Homo sapiens: one gene and its partners. The protein of the gene in region 3 purifies or fractionates together with the protein of the main gene of each other region. This does not show direct contact. Each region holds a gene or a part of one and is shown on either strand. Other genes may lie near its edges.

What was found. The genes of interacting proteins can lie anywhere in the genome.
Region 1: the proteins of HNRNPR (region 3) and ILF2 purify together in Homo sapiens (affinity purification with mass spectrometry; 5 studies listed by BioGRID and IntAct, with this or other methods). This does not show direct contact.
Region 2: the proteins of HNRNPR (region 3) and YBX1 purify together in Homo sapiens (co-immunoprecipitation; 5 studies listed by BioGRID and IntAct, with this or other methods). This does not show direct contact.

Annotation. Positions count from the first base shown.
Region 1 is NC_000001.11:153,667,994-153,675,753, forward strand, and holds the start of ILF2 (interleukin enhancer-binding factor 2), read right to left. Parts: upstream 3,001-7,760; 5' UTR 2,930-3,000; coding exon 2,925-2,929; intron 2,238-2,924; coding exon 2,178-2,237; intron 1,886-2,177; coding exon 1,843-1,885; intron 584-1,842; exon of another isoform or gene 565-583; coding exon 460-564; intron 85-459; coding exon 7-84; intron 1-6. UniProt on the Homo sapiens protein: Chromatin-interacting protein that forms a stable heterodimer with interleukin enhancer-binding factor 3/ILF3 and plays a role in several biological processes including transcription, innate immunity or cell growth.
Region 2 is NC_000001.11:42,692,396-42,699,417, reverse strand, and holds part of YBX1 (Y-box-binding protein 1), read right to left. Parts: intron 5,929-7,022; coding exon 5,895-5,928; intron 3,220-5,894; coding exon 3,130-3,219; intron 2,777-3,129; coding exon 2,474-2,776; intron 2,239-2,473; coding exon 2,156-2,238; intron 1-2,155. UniProt on the Homo sapiens protein: DNA- and RNA-binding protein involved in various processes, such as translational repression, RNA stabilization, mRNA splicing, DNA repair and transcription regulation.
Region 3 is NC_000001.11:23,313,277-23,320,298, reverse strand, and holds part of HNRNPR (heterogeneous nuclear ribonucleoprotein R), read left to right. Parts: intron 1-1,601; coding exon of another isoform or gene 1,602-1,610; coding exon 1,611-1,816; intron 1,817-6,596; coding exon 6,597-6,746; intron 6,747-7,022. UniProt on the Homo sapiens protein: Component of ribonucleosomes, which are complexes of at least 20 other different heterogeneous nuclear ribonucleoproteins (hnRNP). hnRNP play an important role in processing of precursor mRNA in the nucleus.

The DNA.
Region 1 (7,760 bases), about 130 Mb from region 3:
ACTCACCACTTCAAATGTCCCTGGAGCCACAATCAGATTATCAATCACATTGTTTATTTTTGTCACCAGAGAAAGGATAGATGCCTGAAAAACAGTATGAAACAATACTTGAAAATGAAAAATTATAAGCAATTTCTCAGAATTTGAATATTTTCTCCTAATCCCTTCCATACAAGCTGACTCAATACTGACATAGGGCTTTAAAAACACTTCATTCTGGCCTTGAATATATGGGAAGAGAACAACTCTTTGTCCCCAGTAAAAATAAGAATGCATATGTAATTTGTTTATATATCCACCTGGCTATCTCCACCCACAATGAGAAATAAGGAGAACAATTAAACCCTTTGTGGATTTCAGGCTCTGTTAACACCATTCTTAACCTTACCAACAGTTACTCTTTACCAATACTTTTAACTGCTTTAGAGACATTTCTGGAAGACAGCCAAAAGAACATACCTGTTCAGCAGAATTGGGAGCCAGGTCCTGATTCCTCTTCAGCAAGGCCTCACTGAAGGAAGTTTCATCAGGTGCTGGCTTGACCCGGGGAAAGGCCATTTCACACTAAACCAGAAGTAAACAACTACATTCTATTTGCCGAAGATAATATACAGGAGAGATTGTTTTTTCTATTACTACGACAGAAAAAGGTTAAAAACAGAAAATTCTACACTTGTTTTTACTGCTTAATTTGTTCAATTAGCTGGGCGTGGTGGCTCACACCTGTAATCCCAGCTACTTGGGAGGCTGAGGTGATAGCTGGGCGTGGTGGCTCACACCTGTAATCCCAGCTACTTGGGAGGCTGAGGTGAGAGAATCCCTTGAACACAGGAAGCGAGGTTGCAGTGAGCCAAGATCGCGCCATTGCAACTCCAGCCTGGGCAACAGAGTGAGACCCTGCCTCAAAAAAAAAAATTTATTCAAAGGCCAGGCACAGTGGGTCACGCACACCTGTAATCCCAGCACCGTGGGAGGCTGAGGTGGGCAGATCACTTGAGGTCAGGAGTTCAAGATCAGCCTGGGCAACATGGTGAAACCCCGTCTCTACTAAACAGACATACAAAAATTAGCTGGGCATGGTGGCAGGTGCCTGTAATCCCAACTACTCAGGAGGCTGAGGCAGGAGAATCGTTTGAACCCTGGAGGCAGAGGTCCTGATTCCTCTGCCTCCCAGGTTCAGTGCAGTGAGCCAAGATTGCACCACTGCACTCCAGCCTGGGTGACAGAGTGAGACTGTCTCAAAAAAAATAAAAAGTTCAAACAAGGATAAAAGCTGGAATAGCCATAATTTAAGCTATCACTATCTTTATAGTAACAGATATACCATAAATACAATTACTTGTTCAGAACAAAGATTATAATCATGTTTAATGCCAACAGTAGCCAAGGAATTATTCTCCCCACCATGCTTACACTGTTTCTGTATGTAAAGCAACACACAGTTGACTCAAAACCCCAAATCTTTTCACAAATCACTTTCCCTCCCTATTTCAACCATCTTTTTTTTTTTGTAGTGGTGCCATCTTGGTTCACTGCAACCTCCGCGTCCCGGGTTCAAGCAATTCTCCTGCTTCAGCCTCCCAAGTAGCTGGGATTAGACACATGCCCAGCCAACTTTTTTATTTTTAGTAGAGACGGGGTTTCACCATATTGGCCAGGCTAGTCTCAAACTCCTGACCTTCAGGTAATCCATCTGCCTCGGCCTCCCAAAGTGCTGAGATTACAGGCGTGAGGCACTGTGTCTGCCCTCTTCAACCACCATCTAACTTCATTAACTGGGAGATACTGGGCTCCATTTCAACAGTGACCAGAAAATGTGTATCATTAACCCAAGGTACTCACCAAATAGAAGTCAAATGGGATATGTGGTACAAAGGGCCTGAACCTAAAACATGAAAAACAGCCAAATTATTCCCTAGGTAGGAATCAAGCGAGATGTAAATAACACGCCAACAATTTTGAAAACATGTCAGTCCTCAGAATGAGTGACAAAGTCTCCGGGGAGGGAAAGAATCATTCTTAGCATAGTGGGGCCAAATTCATTTAACAGGAGTGCAGGAAAAGACCACAGTTGGCTCTCGCAAAACCAAGTGACATTAGTCTACTCTAAAACTCCTATTTAGATGACAAGCAGAAACTAACAACCAAGTGCAGAGATGCTAAAAGCTGGTACTCACCCTCCTCCTGGGCCTCCTCTGGAACCAAAGCGCCCACCACGACCACGGCCTCTGTCACCCCTAGAAATGCAGATTTTATTTTGACCTCATTGAAGGAATACCCACCGGCCATATCATCTTAGGTTGGCTACTTTCATCCCTCGGAACCTCCCAACGGTAGGCAAGAGACCCCACTCACACTTACACTTGTCCCCATTCCAAATGGTGCCCAGTTACACCCCCATAACCTCCTCTAAGTTAATCCAACCCCCATCAAGTAATGATGGGGCTCAGTGAGCCCTACACTTAATAACCCATAATCCTGGGCCACACGAATCCTAATACTTCGGAGGCTAAAGATTGCTCATTTCTTCACTAAGGTACACATTTATCGGGCGTGTCCTAATGTCAAGGCCTTCGCACTGAGGATGAATGCGGCTCGCTCCAGCATTCTCAGCCCGGATGACGGGGGCGGGGGAAAGGTGGGGAGCTCCTCCAGGGGCTTGAGGACACCCCCTCATCGCAACCCTTCAGAGACAAAGGTGTCGAACCCCCCTCCCCACTCCTGGGCCCGAACCCCATCCCGGGCCCAAGTTTCCCCGCCTCTACCGGCCTCCATCTCTCCCACTATCCTAGACCAGGAGTTCTCAGGTTTTTGGCCAGCCCCCGGATACATGGCCCTTTCTGATACTCCGACTTCTTTCGGCCCACGTTCACAAAGTTTTCCGTCGAATACCTGAAACCTTTCGACCGCTTCGACCCACTTACCTCATGGCGCCTTAAAACACGAACAATGGAGGCCGCACCAACCGCCCCTTCCTCTGAGTAGCAGACAACTGAAGAGGCGTCTTGCCGGCGTGTCCCAATAAAACCCGGTGCGATTGGCTCCCGCCTTACCCCATCGCTTATGCCTATTGGCTTACTTTGTCAAACCGGGCTTATGAACCAATAAAAAACGCCTACTGTGTCAGGAACTAGCCAATAAGAACTGGTTCTATAGTAATGACGAATTTTTGATCAGACATTAGGTGGCACTAAAGAAGTCAGGACAACGACTACGTAGTGTTCTATAACAATCATGAGAAATTTTAGTTCTAGATAGCAGAGTGGCGCAGCGGAAGCGTGCTGGGCCCATAACCCAGAGGTCGATGGATCGAAACCATCCTCTGCTATCGGAGTTTTTTCATTGCCCTGTACGGCATACGTAATCTACGTTTCTTTAGTGAAGGAAAATATCTTGCCAATTTTCCTACCTCAAAAATGCAACCAATATCAGCTATTTTTGCCACTAGCAGTTGAAGTTGATGGGGAAAAGGGAGTTTAGGCAACTATGAACACTGCACGTCTACAAACTCGAAGCAGGAGAAACAGGTTTTAGATAGGAGAGGAGTATATTGATTGAATTAGTGTGGAAAACATGGTTTTCCATGTCCATGGAAACAGGTGATCCACCCGCCTCAGCTTCCGAAAGTGCTGGGATTACCGGCGTGAGCCACAGCGCCCAGCTTGGTTACATAAATTCTTTAGTGGTGATTTGTGAGATTTTGGTGCACTCATCACCCGAGCAGTATACACTGAACCCAACTTGTAGACTTTTATCCCTCACCTACCTCCCTTCCATAAGTACTTTTTCGATATTTAATTTACTACAGCAGAACGTAAACATCTTAAGTCTAAACGTATTCTGGCCACGTAACCACCATCCAGATTAAAATAAATATTATTAATTTTTAAAAAACAAGCAAACAAAAAGCGGACCGAGTGCGGTGGCTTGTGGCCACCCAGCACTGTGGGAGGCCGAGACGGGTGGATCACCCGAGGTCAGGAGTTCGAGATCAGCCTGGCCAACATGGTGAAACTCCGTCTCTACTAAAAATACAAAAATTAGCCGGCGTGCTGGCGGGCGCCTGTAATTCCAGTTACTCAGGAGGCTGAGGCAGGAGAATCTCTTGAATCCGGGAGGCGGAGGTTGCAGTGAGCTGAGATGGCGCCACTGCACCCCAGCCTGGGCGATAGAGGGAGACTCCGTTTAAAAAAAAAAAAATCTTACTTGAGGTTTGTTGAGCTTCTTGAATCAATGGCTTCAGGTTTGTCGTCCATTTATTAAATTTATCAGCTATTATCTCTTCAAGTATTAGTTTTACCTATTATTTCCCTCGTTCCTGAACTCCAAATAAAGACGGGTTAGACTTTTCCCCCAGTAATCTCTTTGTCTCTTACCCTCTCTTCTATTATTTCATTTTATTTAGACACAGGGTCTCACTCTGTTGCCCAGGCTGGAGTGCAGTGGTGCACCATCATAGCTCACTGCAGCCTCAACCTCCTGGCCTCAAGAGACTCTCCCATTTCGGCCTCCCTAGTAGTTGGGACTACTCAAAGGCACAGGCCACACCACTCCGAGCTAATTTTATTTTTTTTTTTGAGATGGAGTCTCCCAGGCTGCAGTGCAGTGGCGCTATTTCAGCTCACTGCAACCTCCGCCTCCCCGGTTCAAGCGATTCTCCTGCCTCAGCCTCCCGAGTAGCTGGGACTACAGGCGCCCGCCACCACGCCCAGCTAATTTTTTTTTTTTTGTATTTTTAGTAGAGACGGGGTTTCGCGGTGTTAGCGAGGATGGTCACCATCTCTTGATCTAGTGATCTGCCCGCCTCGGCCTCCCAAAGTGCTGGGATTACAGACGTGAGCCACCATGCCCGGCCCTGCCCAGCTAATTTTTGTATTTTTAGTAGACATGGGGTTTCACCATGTTGGCCAGACTGGTCTCAAACTCCTGACCTCAGGTGATCCTCCTGCCTCTGTCTCCTAAAGTGCTGGGATTACAGGTGTGAGCCACCTCCTTTGGCCCCGGGCTTACTTATTTATTTATTTTTGTAGAGATGGGGTACTTTATATGTTGTCAAGGCTAGTCTTTGTTTTGTTTTTGTTTTTGTTTTTGTTTTTGTTTTTGTTTTTGTTTTTTTTGAGACAGAGTTTCGCTCTTGTTGCCCAGGCTGGAGTGCAATGCGTGATCTTGGCTCACAAACTCTGCCTCCCAGGTCCAAGTGATTCTCCTGCCTCAGCCTCCCGAGTAGCTGGGATTACAGGCATGCACCACCATGCCTGGATAATTTTGTATTTTTAGTAGAGACAGGGTTTCTCCATGTTGCTCAAGCTAGTTTCGAACTCCCAACCTCAGGTGATCCACCCACCTCGGCCTCCCAAAGTGCTGGGATTACAGGCATGAGCCACTGCAAAGGCCTTTTACCCTCTCTTTTTATGCTTTTCATTCCTTTTTATCCATTCTTCATTTTAGGTAGTTTCTGCTGTCCTTTCTTCCAATTTATTACTTGCTCCTCAGTTTAGTCTAACATAGTATTAAATCTATCATTTGGTTCTTAATTTTGGTCTTTTAATATTTTGGGTCTGTATTATTATTATTTTTGAGACAGGGTCTCACTCCTGTTGCCCAGGCTGGAGTTCAGTGGCATAAACACAGCTCACTGAAGCCTCAACCTCTTGGGCTCAAGCGATCCTCCTGTGTCAACCTCCAGAGTAGCTCGGACTATAGGCATATGTCACCACACCCAACTAATTTTTTAATTTTTGGTAGAGATAAGGTCTCACTATGTTGCCTAAGCTGGTCTCCAACTCCTGGGCTCTAGTGATCCTCACCTCAGCCTCCCAAAGTTCTGGGATTACAGATGTGAGGCACCAAGCAGGACCTTAGATTTTCTATTTATTCTACTCCCAGGTTGCCCCTAGGAGTGCAGCCTTTTGAGATCCTAGCCCAAAACACGAAGGTGGTTTACCAAGGTTATCACCTTTGGGGACATTTGGACTCCTTTTTTTTTTTTTTTTTTTGAGAGTGAGTTTCCCCCTATTGCCCAGGCTGGAGTGCAGTGGCGCAATCTCGGCTCACTACAACCTCTGCCTCCTGGGTTCAAGTGATTCTCCTGCCTCAGCCTCCCGAGTAGCTGGGCTTACAGGCATGCACCACCACGCCTGGCTAATGTTTGTATTTTTAGTAGAGATGGGGGGTCTCACCATCTTGTGCAGGCTGGACTTGAACTCCTGATCTCATGATCCATCCATCTCAGCCTCCCAAAGTGCTGGGGTTACAGGCATGAGCGACCGTGCCTGGCCCTTTTTCTTTTTTTTAATTTAAAAAAATTGAAATGGGGTCTCGCTCTGTTGCCCAGGCTGGTCTGAAACTCCTAAGCTCAAGCCATCCTCCCGCCTTGGCCTCCTAAAGTGCTGGGATTACAGGTGTGAGCCACCACACCCGGCCTGGACTTCACCGGCCCCACACAACCTATTTTCTGCCACTAATTCCAAATCAGCAAATGACCCCAGGGTAAAATCAGCCCTACTGCTGGGCTTACTTCTCTACTTTCCTGTACTTTCATGCTGTCACACCAATAATTTCTCACTATCTTATTTTTTTAATTATTATTATTTTTTGAGATGAAGTTTTGCTCGAAATGGAGTGAAATGGTACGATCTCAGCTCATTGCAACCTCCGCCTCCTGTGTTCAAGCAATTCTGCCTCCGCCTCCCAAGTAGCTGGGATTACAGGCACCTGCCACCACGCCCGGCTAATTTTTGTATTTTTAGTAGAGACGGGGTTTTGCCACGTTGGCCAGGCTGGTCTCGAACTCCTGACCTTAGGTGATCCACCTGCCTTGGCCTCCCAACGTGCTAGGACTATAGGCGTAAGCCACTGTGCCTGGCCTCACTATCTTATTAGTTCTTTTATTATTATTTATTTATTTATTTATTTATTGTTTTTTTTGAGACAGGGTCTTGCTCTGTTGCCCAGGCTGGAGTGCAGTGGTGTGATCTCGGCTCACTGCAATCTCTGCTTCTGGGTTCAAGTGATTCTTGTGCCTCAGCCTCCCGAGTAGCTGGGATTACAGGTGTGCACCACCAAGCCCGGCTATTTTTTTTTTTTTTTTTTTGAGACAGAGTTTCACTCTTGCTGCCCAGGCTGGAGTGCAGTGGTGGGATCTCGGCTCACTGCAACCTCAACCCCCTGGGTTCAAGCAATTCTGCCTCAGCCTCCCGAGTAGCTGGGATTACAGGCACCTGCCACCACGCTTGGCTAATTTTTTTTTTTTTTTGAAGAGACGGAGTCTTGCTCTGTCACCCAGGCTGGAGTGCAGTGGCGCGATCTCGGCTCACTGCAAGCTCCGCCTCCCAGGTTCGAGCCATTCTCCTGCCTCAGCCTCCTGAATAGCTGGGGCTACAGGCGCCCGCCACTGTGCCCAGCTAATTTTTTGTATTTTTAGTAGAGACAGGGTTTCACCATGTTAGCCAGGATGGTCTCAATCTCCTGACCTTGTGATCCGCCCATCTCGGCCTCCCAAAATGCTGGGATTACAGGCTTGAGCCACTGCGCCCGGCCCAGTTCTTTTATTTTTATTTTTATTTATTTATTGTTTTTTGAAACAGGGTCTTGCTCTGCTGTCCAGGCTGGAATGCAGGTGCGCAATCTTGGCTCACTGAAACCTCTGCCTCCTGGGTTCAAGTGATTCTTGTGCCTCAGCCTCCCTAGTACCTGGGATTACAGGCATGCACCACCAAGCCCGGCCAATTTTTTTTTTTTCTTTGAGACAGAGTTTCACT
Region 2 (7,022 bases), about 19 Mb from region 3:
GTCAAGCTGGGTGAACTCACTTCTAATTTATGATCGTTATCCTATTACTTATAAATTTACCATCTCTATTTTCTGTTCTAGAGGGTTCTTTGCCCCAAACTTTTCAAACTTCCTCTTTACTTTCGTCTCAATTTAGCAACCAAAGGCTTCCATGTCTTCCCATTAACACATGCGTGCCCATGTATTCTTGTTTCTTACACAGGAAAACGGCAGGTTCCTAACAAAAGGTCAACATTTTCACCTGTGGGCAAAACCCTACCCTCTCTGAGAAAGAAAACAGTTCCAGCAGTCACTTTCCTGCCATCAACTGTTATCCTGGATTGCATTTCAGCCTATAAATGTTATTTCTCAACAAAAAACCTCCCTTTTTGACCCCCCATTTTCCCCTTACTACTATTAGTCTCATTTTCAGCAACACTTGTACTATACTCTGTCTTAAGATTTCCCTTTCAGTTTGCTCTTGAACCCACACCAGTCAGAATTTCACACCATTCCATGCATTAGGGGCAGCATGTTTCATTTACTCTCATTTGAACAAAAGATTCCTGCACAGTTTGGAAAGTCTAGCATTCATTGATAACTTCCAAGCAATTTTATGTTACTTCTGCAACTATCTGGCAGGACTGAGCATTCTAAACATTGAAACACGTAGACATTAAGTCTAACTTAAACCAAAAGGCAAAAACCTCTGCACTGGAGGGGTAACAATGGACAAAGATACCTTTCTAAGAGACAAATCAACCGCAAGCTTGTTTGTCAATATAAAGACAAACAATTTACTCAACGGTGAACTGAAGCACTGAATACAAACACAAAATTATGCTATTTTTAAGGACATCAATGAAACTAGGCAAAACATTTAAGCTCTTCAGTGTAACAAAAGGTAAACCAAAGATTCTGCTGCTGGAACCCATGGACTTAACAGATGGACTGCCATGAGAGGCTATTTTAGACCTACTCTGAAAAATAAAAACCCATCTATCTTCAACATCCAGCATCTGGCTAACACAATCTCCTGGTAGAAAACTGAATCAGAGATCTTCAATTGTGGTAGTGATCAGTTAGGACCTCAGCTCTTTTAACTGAAAACTCAGGACAAGACATATTAATACAAAAAATATGATGACATCAGCTGCTCTTGCAAAACTCTCAATGTACATGTGCTGATAAATACATGTAATACAACCTCGACTAGATTCCCTAGTTCCTAAAACTTCACTAAGTGCTCCAACTTTGGTAAAATTTAAAAACCTATATACAGAAACCCCCTCTTATAGACTCACAGTATATTTTGGATATGTTGGATACTTCTAGAATAATAAACTTGACACTTAAAAATTTGGGGATTTAAAAGTTGCGATTTAAGTGATCAGTTAAGATGCGTTATTACTGTATTGGTTTGATTCTTCAGAGGTACCTGTCAGCTTTTGGGGATCACCTATGAAAACTCAATGCTTTGATATCAAACCCTTAGAGAAACAACTATTACACCATCCTATCCTACCACCGTGGGACTGGGAACACTGCCTCAAAGTATACTACGGCATGGACTAAAATATGCTTGGTTCATGGAATTTTTCCTCGATTACTCTAATAATGACATCTATTAATAAGATTTCTAATACCCACTCAAGTAGATAGTTGTCTAACGACAGACTGGATTTCCCCCCGCAGAATGTAAATTCTTGGTGGAGCAATTTCATTTTGCAACTTTGAGCTGACAACTCCCAACTCCAAAAAAAAGGGGGTACATATCTAAACTGAGAAGTGTTTAGTGGAAGATAATGTATGCCATTTCAAGTGATAACACTGTTGATTCTTCACTAATGCCATGGTACAATTCAGATACTCCTAATGCTTTCCTTTCTCCCTACCAAGGAGGCAGGTTTAAAAGGTGTGGTTTAAAATATTATCTTACCTGTTCAAGGACAGAAAATTTGAAATTCCAAACCCTCATCATTTTCTAAAAAAATTTATGTATAAAGCAGACCTCATCTATACAAGCTGTTTTTAATAGGTTCACCTCTTAGGCATCTGATGAAAGAAAACGTGAAGTGTTAACAGAAAAATGAGTCTGCAGGAGAGGCATGATATTGCTGAGTCCTAACACGGGTTTGAGGAAATTTTAATAGAAACATGTTTACGTGGACCATACCTGCGGAATCGTGGTCTATATCCCCGATACATATTCTGCCTCACTGGTCTACCTTGTTCTCCTGCACCCTGGTTGTCAGCACCCTGAAAAAGACAATGGAAATTAAGCCTACTGGGTCAGTAATATAATAAAAAAACCCAACCAGATAAATCCAAGAGTTAAAAAACAAACAAAACAGACCATCTAGTAATTGTGACTACATTATAAATTAATCCTTTTGGTTCTTACTAGGAATCCAAGTTGCTTTCCATATAATTAACAGCTCTAAACAGTCCTACCAGAACTTATCACATTGCTGTTGTTGATGGTGAAACTTACCTCCATCACTTCTCCCTGCACAGGAGGGTTGGAATACTGTGGTCGACGCCCATAGGGTCTCCGCATGTAGTAAGGTGGGAACCTTCGCCTGCGGTAGGGCCGGCGTTGTTGGGCCTGGCCTTCGGGAGCACTCTCCGATCCCTCGTTCTTTTCCCCACTCTCACTATTCTGGTAATTTTGCTGGTAATTGCGTGGAGGACCCCTACGACGTGGATAGCGTCTATAATGGTTACGGTCTGCTGCATATTTACTGCCTTGAACTGGAACACCACCAGGACCTGTAACATTTGCTGCCTCCGCACCCTACAAAAGCCATTACATATTGATAGTGACAAAGGAAATCAGAACACTTTCAACACTTTCAAAAGGAAATCAGAACATTTTCAAACAAAGCAAAAAACAACAAAGTTAAGGAAAAAAAAGGGGGGGGGGGCGCAACTGCGTGACCAGGGGTGCACAGAAATGACTAAATATCAGTTCCTCACTGTTCTGAAGAGATTGCCCTCTAACTGCAGCCAGAACATTAGGCTTGATGCACCTGTGTTCATGAGGTCACCTGAACACATCCATCCACATTAGAGCCACCATCCTAATGGATGAGACCTCCAAAATATTTCCATACTGAAGTCAAACCTTTACACAAAAAGCATCCTCACCTTTTCTCCTTCAACAACATCAAACTCCACAGTCTCTCCATCTCCTACACTGCGAAGGTACTTCCTGGGGTTATTCTTCTTTATGGCAGTCTAGTAATATCACATTCCAAAAATAGATTAACAGGGGAGAATAATGTGCTTTTTCATTTAAAATGTACCAGAGTCAATATTATTTTAGCTTGGATATACACTTAAGATTTGCTTTAAATAAGACCAAACCATCAATAAATTTAGGAAAGCGGGGACCACACTATCCCCAACTTCAACAAAAACACTCCAATCATACAAGGCCCCAGCATTGTACCACTATTTACAAAACTAAAACAAGTAATTTAACACTCAAGACAGACACATCATTTTAAAAACTGCTTTTTGCAAAAGCATTATATATAACTTTTAACAAATGAGGATATCCATCTATCCCCTGAGGACTGCACTTAATAGGAGAAGGTGGCCCCACACTGCGTCAGTTTAGATGACAGGCGAGTTTGGTTTTGCATGCTTCAAAGCTGACCAAACCAACTTTGCCCCTGTGTTACCGTATCAAACTCAATTACAAATGTCAACCAAAATCCCTTCCAATCTGATAATACATCAGTGGAAATGCAATTCATGTGTATTAACTATGTCATTCTTTATATGATCTGACTGCATGGAATTGTTAGTTATCACCTCCCCAGAATTCAATAAATCTTGTATTAGAGACTTGTTGCTTCTACTTTCTCCAGACTGTTAAGAGAAGGGAGGAAGAGTAACATCTCACGTTTCTATGAAATTTTTTTGCAACATTCTTTCACTTACTATCTATTCAATCTCATTATGAGACAGGACATGTGAAAGTATTGTTAATCCCATTACACAGATAATGTAACAGGCTTTAAAGTTAGGTGACTTGCCCAAGGTCACACAGTTAGTAAGGAGACTTTCTAAACCCAGGTATTGGGTCTCCAAATCCCATGTTCACTCCAAATCTCAGCTATATCCATTACAGGATCACTCATGCATTTCCATTGCAGAGGAGACAGGACAATCAACGAATCTGAGGCCAATTAAGTGAAGCTGCCCAGAACTGCAGTCTCCCTGATACACCACTAAGACCTGAGCAGCCAAAGTCCCAAGAAACAACTACATGTTGAAACCACTTCCAAAAAAATGAAAGCATATTGGTGGCACCTTGTGAATCAGTACAACTGGGTGAGTTGAGTCAAATAATTGATCTCATCTGTCATCTAAACTGTCACATAGTTTTCATACCTTTCAGATATAGCCAACTATCAATTACCTGCAGTCATAGGGGATAGCAGAATTATGGATAATTAAAATCCCAACTCTTTATTTTTATCAACATCTCCACCCCTGCCCCAACCCCAACCCTTAAGGGTTGCCAACAGGCAACAAGACCGAGAAACTTTGCTGTCTCTTGTTCCTAAGTCTACACATTCTTTTGAACATGCAGAAGGGGAGTAAGGAACAGTTGAGCTGTGTTCTTCCAAACAAGAATACCAATTTTATAAAACATCTACTTTAAAACAACATTTTGTCTGAAGTAGTCCTGTATTTATTTACATTTAGAATTTAAATGATTCCATAATTACATTTGACCCTGAACTACCTGATTGGGTTTGGGTGTACTAGAAATTGATATAGCTTCCTCCTTGTCATCAAATACTGTGTAGGACACTTCAGTGAGCTACAAAGCACCAACCTATGACAGCCCTTCCTATGAAACATGCTGCCATAAAAGCTAGTATCTAATTAAATGTGAGTATGGATATTAACTTTTAGGTCTTTTGATTTCTGGATTATAGTACAAAAAAGTAGTTATGGTCTCTAATTTTAATACAAGTTGACAATATTTCAAAAGCCTTAGTGAGAAAACTGATAGCACAAACATATTTTTTCCTACTCATTTCGTATCTGTGAGGATAAGTACATTCAATGTAGCCTACAGCATATCTAAATTTGAAGTATTAACATACACTTGGCAGTGGTTTACATTAGTAATAATCTTAATTCCTGAATGTGCAAACATTTTCCCTAAATGATACTTAGGGAGAAAGTTCACTATGCAGTACTCATCAGTACTCATCCTATGTTAACAGTTTTCTCTTCCCAAATCACTGGAAGCCAATCTAAAAATTATTTAATGAGCAGCTGCCAACCTTGTCACACTTCCCCCCACTTAACCTTAAACTAGTGAAATTTTTTCATTTTCCAAGCCAGCCAAAACTCTCCAAAGGTTTAAAAAAAAAAAAAACCCAATACCCATTCAAAGTGATTTAAAGTAAGCAGAAGGCTCTTTATGCTACTTTTCAAGTACTCACTTCAATTACTATGTTTTGCAGGTCTGTCTTATTTACCCTTGATTATGGAGATTTGTCCCTACAGGTACACCTAAAAGCCTTTGAAAACTTCTTGCCAAAGTTTCTGTGTATTTATAGCAACATTATTTGTTCAACTTTAGAATCATGGAATAATCTGTTCATCTGAAATTAGGTATAAATATTTAATGCAGTGAGTTTGACTCAACATTTGAGAAAGCCACAGCTGTTGACAAAATTCCAATTTGAAATGTCTAGGATAATTAAGTCAACTCTAACACATTTCCACGTATACATTTTTAAGCATGCTACTACTCCTGTCGTAAGTAAATAAACTGGTGGTTGGACTTAACCTTTTATAAGGAACAAAAGCTGAGAACATATCTAACCTTTTCTTCTTACAATCCTTGAATCAGAAGTGCAAATATCTACACAAGCACTCACCTGGTGTACAAATACATCTTCCTTGGTGTCATTCCTGCAAGACAGAACCAAGTTGAACAAGTTAGAAAATGAAATAAATCTCATGTTGTCAAAGATTAATTTTCCCAGAGACTCTCTGGCTGCCAATTAGGTACCAGGAAATTTGGCAAAAATCAAAAAACACAAGCCACCATGCTCTCTGCTTTCAAGACTTCAGCAGTTGCAAACAGTTGTAGCCTCATTACCCGTAAGATAGGCAAAAAAAAAAAAAAGTCTAAGAAATTAAAGTGTGACCTACTGAGCCATAATTAAGAGGGTAGCAATGACTAGCAAAATATATTCTGCCCCTCCTTATCCTATTAAACATTAACTGTTCTAGCACACCCTCCTCTTACCTCTAGAGCATGGTTACCAACAGAAGTAGTAGTTACATTCTCACCTTATCCTGCATCTCCCAACTACCAACTTTCCTTGAGATCATAAAAATGAGAACCCCCCTCCCCACCAACAGAATGTATAACGCAAAGAGTGAAACCTAATGGGAACTGTGACCTTTGGGTGATAAGGTATGTTTGAATGTAAGAAAAGCCCAGTTATAAAAGCTACTCCACAAGTCCAGACAAGGACTGATGAAGGTTTAGACCACGGAGCCATGTATAAAAAGACATTTGAGATCTCTTTTTGAGGCAAAATGAGAAACTTTGTGGATGACTGGATGTCAGAAGCGAGGGGGTAGAGAATAATCTCACTTTTTAGCCTGGATATTGGGATTAAGGTGATAACACGAGGAGCAAGAATCACCACTGGAGAAGGAAACGGATTTCCAGGCCTGCAGTGGCCTGCCTCACCCTCTTTACTCCGTCAGGTCAGAGTGAGAAAAAGCTCAGTAGTAGCTCTAGCGTTTAATGACAAAGGGAACAAAGGTTACAATGAACTGGACAAACTGGCTTACTGACTGTTAGCTTCTTGCTGAACTGGGGGCAACATATGCATCAAAGGATCCACATAAAATTAACTTTAAATCTGACCTGTAAATTATAGCTTGGATTATTATAAGAACATTTTTAATTGATGGGAACAGGATAATTAAAAAAACAGAACAGGTAAACTGTAAAAGCGACTTAAGGCAAGTGACTGAAAACTGACCTT
Region 3 (7,022 bases):
CACCCGCTATATTGTGTTGTCAAGTATTGTGTTGTCAACTGCTGGCACAGTTCTTTGACCTCATCACTTTATTATCTATAGCTCCTTCTGGCTTCATGATCATTTATTCATTCTTTCAGCAGGTGTTTATTAAAGTTCCTGTTAAGTGCTGGCATTGTGCTATGTGCCTGGGATACACTGATGGCTAAGAGACATATTCTCTGCTTTCATAGATCCTATATCCTGAGAAAGGAGATAAGACCAAGAATATAAAAAATAAAAATTAAAGGAATATTTAGACATTGTGATAAGACACTGAAGCAGGAAATACAGGATATTTAGCTAGAGAATAGCTACTATCCCTGTTTCCATGGTTTTGGAAGACTTTTCTGATAAGATGACATGTCAACCAGCACCTGAAGGATGAAGAGGTTGTAGCATACAAAGAGCAAAAGGAAGTGCATTCCAAGACAGCAACACGTGCCAAGGTTCCAAGGCAAGAAAGAAGTCAGTATATTACAGTAACTGAGGAGGCCAGTATTATTAAAAGGTAGAATTAGGAGTAGAGTTGTATGAAATGAAGTAGGCAGGGCTTCTGTAGGCCATGTAAGGAGTTGGGTTTTTATTGTATATATAATGAGAAGGTATTTAAAGGTTTTAAGCAGGAAATAACACCTATTTCTTGTTTATGGGATATTATTCCTAGCGCTCTGTGGATAGGGGCTTGGAGAGAAGGGGTGTGAGTGGAAGCTGATAAATTAGTTGAAGCTGTCATACTAGTACAGATACAGGATTAGACTAGGGTAATAGCAGTGGAGATAGAAAGAAGTAAATGAGTTTGGAATTGGATAGGAGAGATGAAGGAAGAAATCAAGAATGGCTAACCAATTTCTGGCTTCAGAACCAGGTGGATGGCACTGTTTATTAGATAGGAAGTCTAGGGAAGGCAGATTTTGGCCATGGTGGTTCAGTTTTGGAAAAGTTAAATTTGCAATGTCTAAGACATCAAAGAGGATACATCGGGTAAGAACGTAGGCACATCTAGAGCTTAGAGAAGTCTGGGGTAGGAAAAAAATCTAAGTATTTATAAGGGTATAGGTAACATTTAAAAGTAGGGCTAGCTGACATTATTTAGAAAGAACACATACGGAGAGATAAGGGCAAAGGACTAAGACCAGAGGAACACTAATATTTAGTGATCACTTCCATTCTTGGTAAAAATAGTAACTTTTAAGTTAGCTTCAAGGAAGATTTTTGGCCATGATTAGTTGTCAAAAGTTAGTTCTCTTGGGTTTATATTACTAATTTTGTTTTTAAGATCCTTGTTAGTGCTTTAATAAAGTCATGTTATATCAAACGCTCTAAAACATTGTAGCATGTTAAATGTCAGAATATAGTAGATTTGTTGTATATGGCTGTACCTTCAGAACCCCTAAAATTAAAAAGGAACATCAAATACTGTCCCAAACCCCATATCTAATTATGTTGATCTAATTGTCTACAAAATTAGTGACTCATGTTGAGGCTGCTTCACTTATATTTTGCTCATCGTCAAGTGGATTTAGGTCTGCCTAATCGCTAGATGTGTGGTGGATGCTTTTGGCTTATATATCTGGCTGTTGGTTTAACAGAGGGTTTGGTGGACGTTATTCTCTATCATCAACCCGATGACAAAAAGAAGAATCGGGGGTTCTGCTTCCTTGAATATGAGGATCACAAGTCAGCAGCACAAGCCAGACGCCGGCTGATGAGTGGAAAAGTAAAAGTGTGGGGAAATGTAGTTACAGTTGAATGGGCTGACCCTGTGGAAGAACCAGATCCAGAAGTCATGGCTAAGGTAAATACAGTTGCTTGGAATGGGCATAGGGTCATCATTTAAATTTTGTACTCAGAATAAAGCTCAAATATTTTGAGTTTTATGATAAATAGAAATTGTAGCTTTAGACTTCAACTGTTTGGCAAGGAGCGGCTTTAACACTAAAGTTAACAGCCTGTCTTGGTATCCAGGAATTTCCATTAACAATCCCTTTTCCTGCAGATTAAATGTGCAAAAGGAACTGAAATGAAATTCCTTCAATTAAGTAGTCCCATACACACTGGGTGTTTGTTTAGTGCTAGGCACTGTGAGGGATAGAGGTTTTTTTTTTTTTTAAAAGTCCTGAGTAAAGAGAGAAGTAATGTTTTGGAGATTATAAGTTATAATCTTCATTGACTATATTATGACTTTATTACTTGGCCATGAATTATGTTTTATTTAGATTTATAGCTAATTTTTCTTTTTTTAAGCTTTTTTTGTAGTTTTTATTTTTAAAAATATTTTATTTATTATTATTATTTTTTGAGACAGAGTCTTGCTGTGTTGCCCAGGCTGGAGTGCAGTGGTACGATCTCGGCTCACTGCAACCTCCACCTCCCAGGTTCAAGCGATTCTCCTTCCTCAGCCTCCCAAGTAGCTGGGACTACAGGCGCCTGCCACCATGCCCGGCTAAATTTTGTATTTTTAGTAGAGACAGCATTTCACCATATTGCAGGCTGGTCTCGAACTCCTAAGCTCATGATCTACCCGCCTTGGCCTCCCAAAGTGCTGGGATTAAGGCATGAGCCACCGTGCCCCGCCTCTTGTTTTTAAATGATCAGATTCCCTTAGTGTATTGTCCCCATGAAGAAAGGCAAAAGATTGTCATGTTTGCTCTTATTTGTTAGTGGCAAAATATGCATGGCAAGTCCTGTAAAGGGCCCTCAATTCCCTCCTGATTCCTGTACTTGCGTTGCCAGGATCTTAATAGTGGTGCCTTGAGTACTGGTTCTTAAGTTTTCCTTTGGGCGACTCCTGGGACACATCAGAGTTGCATTTCTTTTTTTTTGAGATGGAGTCTTGCTTTGTCCCAGGCTGGAGTGCAGTGGCGCGATCTCCACTCACGGCAAGCTCTGCCTCCTGGGTTCACGCCATTCTCCTGCCTCAGCCTCCCAAGTAGCTGGGACTACAGGTGCCCGCCACCACAGCTGGCTAATTTTTTGTATTTTTAGTAGAGACGGGGTTTCACCATGTTAGCCAGGGTGGTGTCCATCTCCTGACCCTGTGAACCGCCCGCCTCGGCCTCCCAAAGTGCTGGGGTTACAGGTGTGAGCCACTGCGCCCGGCCTCAGAGTTGCATTTCTGCTGCTTGCAATGAGCTCTTGAGCATTTTAGTTGTCTCTTCCCTTCACAGGGAGGCAGCAACTCTGAATGGCCATGAGTTAATGGTTGGATTCTTCTTGATAAGTCAGAAGTCAAGGTTTTTATTCCAGAATTTGAGGAGGCAAACCCTCGTTCTAAGTAGTTTGGAGGAGAACTCTGGTTTATACTTGTATAAAGTCTGGGTTGGCAGTGACATCTTTGGGTTAATCAGATAAGTTCTATTCAGAATGAACCAGAGAGGCTCTCAGAAGTGCTACTCAGTATCTTTTATCTCATATTCCTTGAGTAGATGGGTGTCTAGGAAAGGGATAGAGAATTTAAATAGCTCTGAGTTTTTATTTTGATTTTTTACTAGCTTGATTTTAATTCCTATTGTTTCTTCTCCTAATACAACTATGACTTTGGGTAAACTACTGAACATGAATGTCATCTATTTTATTGAGCCTGGATCAATCTCTAAGATCCACCACAACTTTGAATCTACCTGTAGTAACTAAGTATAGCCTGTATTACTTTTTCTGTAAAAATATTTTAAAATAGTATTATAGATGTATTATAATAGAGGAATAAAATATTATAAAAGAGGAATAAAATCCCATGAAAACCAAAAGTATAGCTTGTAATTTGCTTACCAGCCACTTCTCACATAACCTTTAGTAACTGCTCAGATGGAAGTTCATCCTAATCTTTTTTTAGGGTTAGAAAACTTCAAGATTTCATTCTGGTAACTCCTTTTTCCTAGATCTAAAACAGGTTTCAGAATGAAAAGGAGGTCTCTATAAACTTAGGATTAAATATTATGGAGCCCTTTATTGTTTCTTTTTTTTAAAAGATGGGGTCTCATGTTGCCCAGGCTGGAGTGCAGTAGCTGCCCACATGTGCAGTCATAGCACACTGCAGCCTTGAACTCCTGGGCTTAAGCGTCCCTCCTGCTTCAGCCTCCCGGGTGCTTGCAACCCCATCCAGCTCCTTTATTGTTTCCTAATTGAAAAGAAAAGTTTATCCATTTGAGTAAAGCTTCTGTTATTCACACTATCAATTTACAATTCACTGAAGATTTTTTTTGCCAAGTTGGGTCAGTTTTACAATGTACCATAACCTAAAAGCCTAAATATATGTCTCTTAAAGGGACCCTTTTTCCTGTTGAACATTTTAAACACAATTTCAGTAAGTAATTTTCACATAGTATGTTATCGTTTCATCATAGAAAAGTCCATGTTGAATTTTTTTTAAAAAGCAACTAAACCAGTGGGAGTCTGTGTAACATAGAGGCTGGACCTTAGTATGACAAATTGAGAATAATAAAGGGGATGGAGCGTTTGTGGAAAATGTTAGTTTTTTTCCTCCTTAAATTAGTATCTTCTTATTAGATAGCCCTTTATCTGAAGCAACAATTTGTTCAATATGTTAGTTTTTTATTTGGATAGGTACTATGTTTTCTTAGTTCAAAAGTTATATAGAAAAGTATAGACAAAGAAATTTCCTTTCTACCCCTATCCCTGTGTCTACCAAATCCCCTTTGTCTCCTATAAGGCATCCAGTTTTAATAGTTGCTGGTTTCCTTTTAGTATTTCCTTCGGCAAATATGGATATACTTCCTTAATTCTTAGATGAGTGGTAGTAATGTTGGTAGCCTACCATATCCACTGATCTACCTTTTGTTTATTCACCATCCTGTTTCATCAGCTCTGAGGAAATACATCATTACTATATGTACTACTAAATAGTTAAAAAACACTGCCAACTAAACTATGGCACAGTACTTGCTTATCACATTGACTGTAAGTTGTCCTATCCTACAACTCATAGAGCTCCTCTTCATTTTTTGGGTTTTTGTTTTTTTTTTTTTTTTTTTTTTTTTTGAGACGGAGCCTTGCTCTGTCACCCAGGCTGGAGTGCAGTGGTGTAATCTTGGCTCACTGCAGCCTCTGCCTCCCGGGTTCAAGTGATTCTCCTGCCTCAGCTTCCCGAGTAGCTGGGGTTATAGGTGCCTCCTACCACGCCCGGCTAATTTTTGTATTTTTAGTAGAGACAGGGTTTCACCATGCTGGCCAGGCTGGTCTTGAACTCCCAACCTCAGGTGATCTGCCCACCTCGGCCTCCCAAAGTGCTGGGATTACAGGCGTGAGCCACCGCGCCCAGCCCTCTTCTTCATTTTTTATGACTACATAGTAGTCTATTCTGTGGAGGTACTATAGTGTATTTAACCAGCTGGATATTGTTTCTAATCTTTTGCTCTTACAGTGCTGGAAGGAATAAGCTTATGTTAGTTGATACAAGTGGAGATATATCTGTAGGATAGATTCTTAGGGGTAGAATTGTGGGCCAAAGGGTAGATATATCTGTAATTGTTAAGATACTGCCATATTCCTTTCTGTAGGAGATACACTATTTTACATTCCTACCAGCAAAATACAAGAGAATTATTTTCCTCATTCTTGACAAAATAGTGTATAATCAAACTTTTGAATTTTGCCAGCCTGATAACAAATGTCTCAGTGCCATTAATGATTAATGATTTGCTTCTCTTACTATGAATGGTTTGAACTTTAAATATATTTTAAGAGCCATATGTGTTTCTGTGTATGAACCATGTATTCAGGAATTTTGCCTATTTTTCTATTCAGTTGTTGAGCTTTTTGTTATTTTCTGGTGCTCTGATATAAAAGAGAGATTAGCTGTTTGTGATACATGTTGCAAATTTTTCATCCATATTTATTGTCTTTGCTTATAGTATTTTTTTGCCATATAGAAGTCATTTATTTTTAGTAGTTGAGTATAACATTCTTATGGCTCCTAGATTTTAAGTCATAAGGTCATCCCCACTCCAGTGTTATATAAAGGAATCATTCTTGTTCTAAAATTTCACAGTCCTCCCTCCACCCTTTTATTATTTAAATTTTCAATCTATTTGGAGTTTATCCTTGTGTATAGTGTAAGGCATGGACCAGCTTTTCTCCTTTTTTTCTAATTTAACACTACCTGATTTAATGATTTAAGCATTATAGTTTGTTTATATTTGGTAGGGCCAGCCTCTAAATTTCACTCTTTTTTTTCCTGGTTATTCTTGCTTATTTATTTTTTCATATGAACTTTTGAAAGTTACTCAGTTTTAGAGGAAAGAAACAGAAAAACTTGTTTTGAAAGGGACTTTTTGTTGATTAACTTGGTAATAATAATTATGTGTTGGTTCCTTGAAGGTTCTACTCAGTGTTAGGTGCTTTAATGACAACATAGGAGAAGGCAGGAACCAATAATTTTTGTAAATTGGTGACTGATATCAGTGTCATTTTCCTAGCAATTTCTCTTACTACCTGTAACAACACTTTTAGCACTTAATGTTTTAGAGGAGAAAAGCTATGCTATGAAGACAGGAAGAAACACTTTTCAGGTAAAATTAAGTAGCCAATGACGGTTTTGTTTATTTGTTGCTTACTAGGTAAAAGTTTTGTTTGTGAGAAACTTGGCTACTACGGTGACAGAAGAAATATTGGAAAAGTCATTTTCTGAATTTGGAAAACTCGAAAGAGTAAAGAAGTTGAAAGATTATGCATTTGTTCATTTTGAAGACAGAGGAGCAGCTGTTAAGGTAGGAATTTTGAAATTTTGGTTCTTGATATTTGAATTTTGTTTTTGAAACTTGCCAAACACAAAGTAACTTTAAAAACTGAAACAATATTGGTTGTCAGCTTTTGCTGAACTCTTTCTATTTAATCTCTGTAAAGTGGTAATAGTATGTAACAGATAAGACTCCATATTTCAAAGCCAGGTTATTACTGAGTTTGTGATCTTAGGCAAGTTATTTTTAATCTCTGTATTGTTTTGTAAGATTCGATAGCATGATGCCTTGGAAGTATTACAAGGT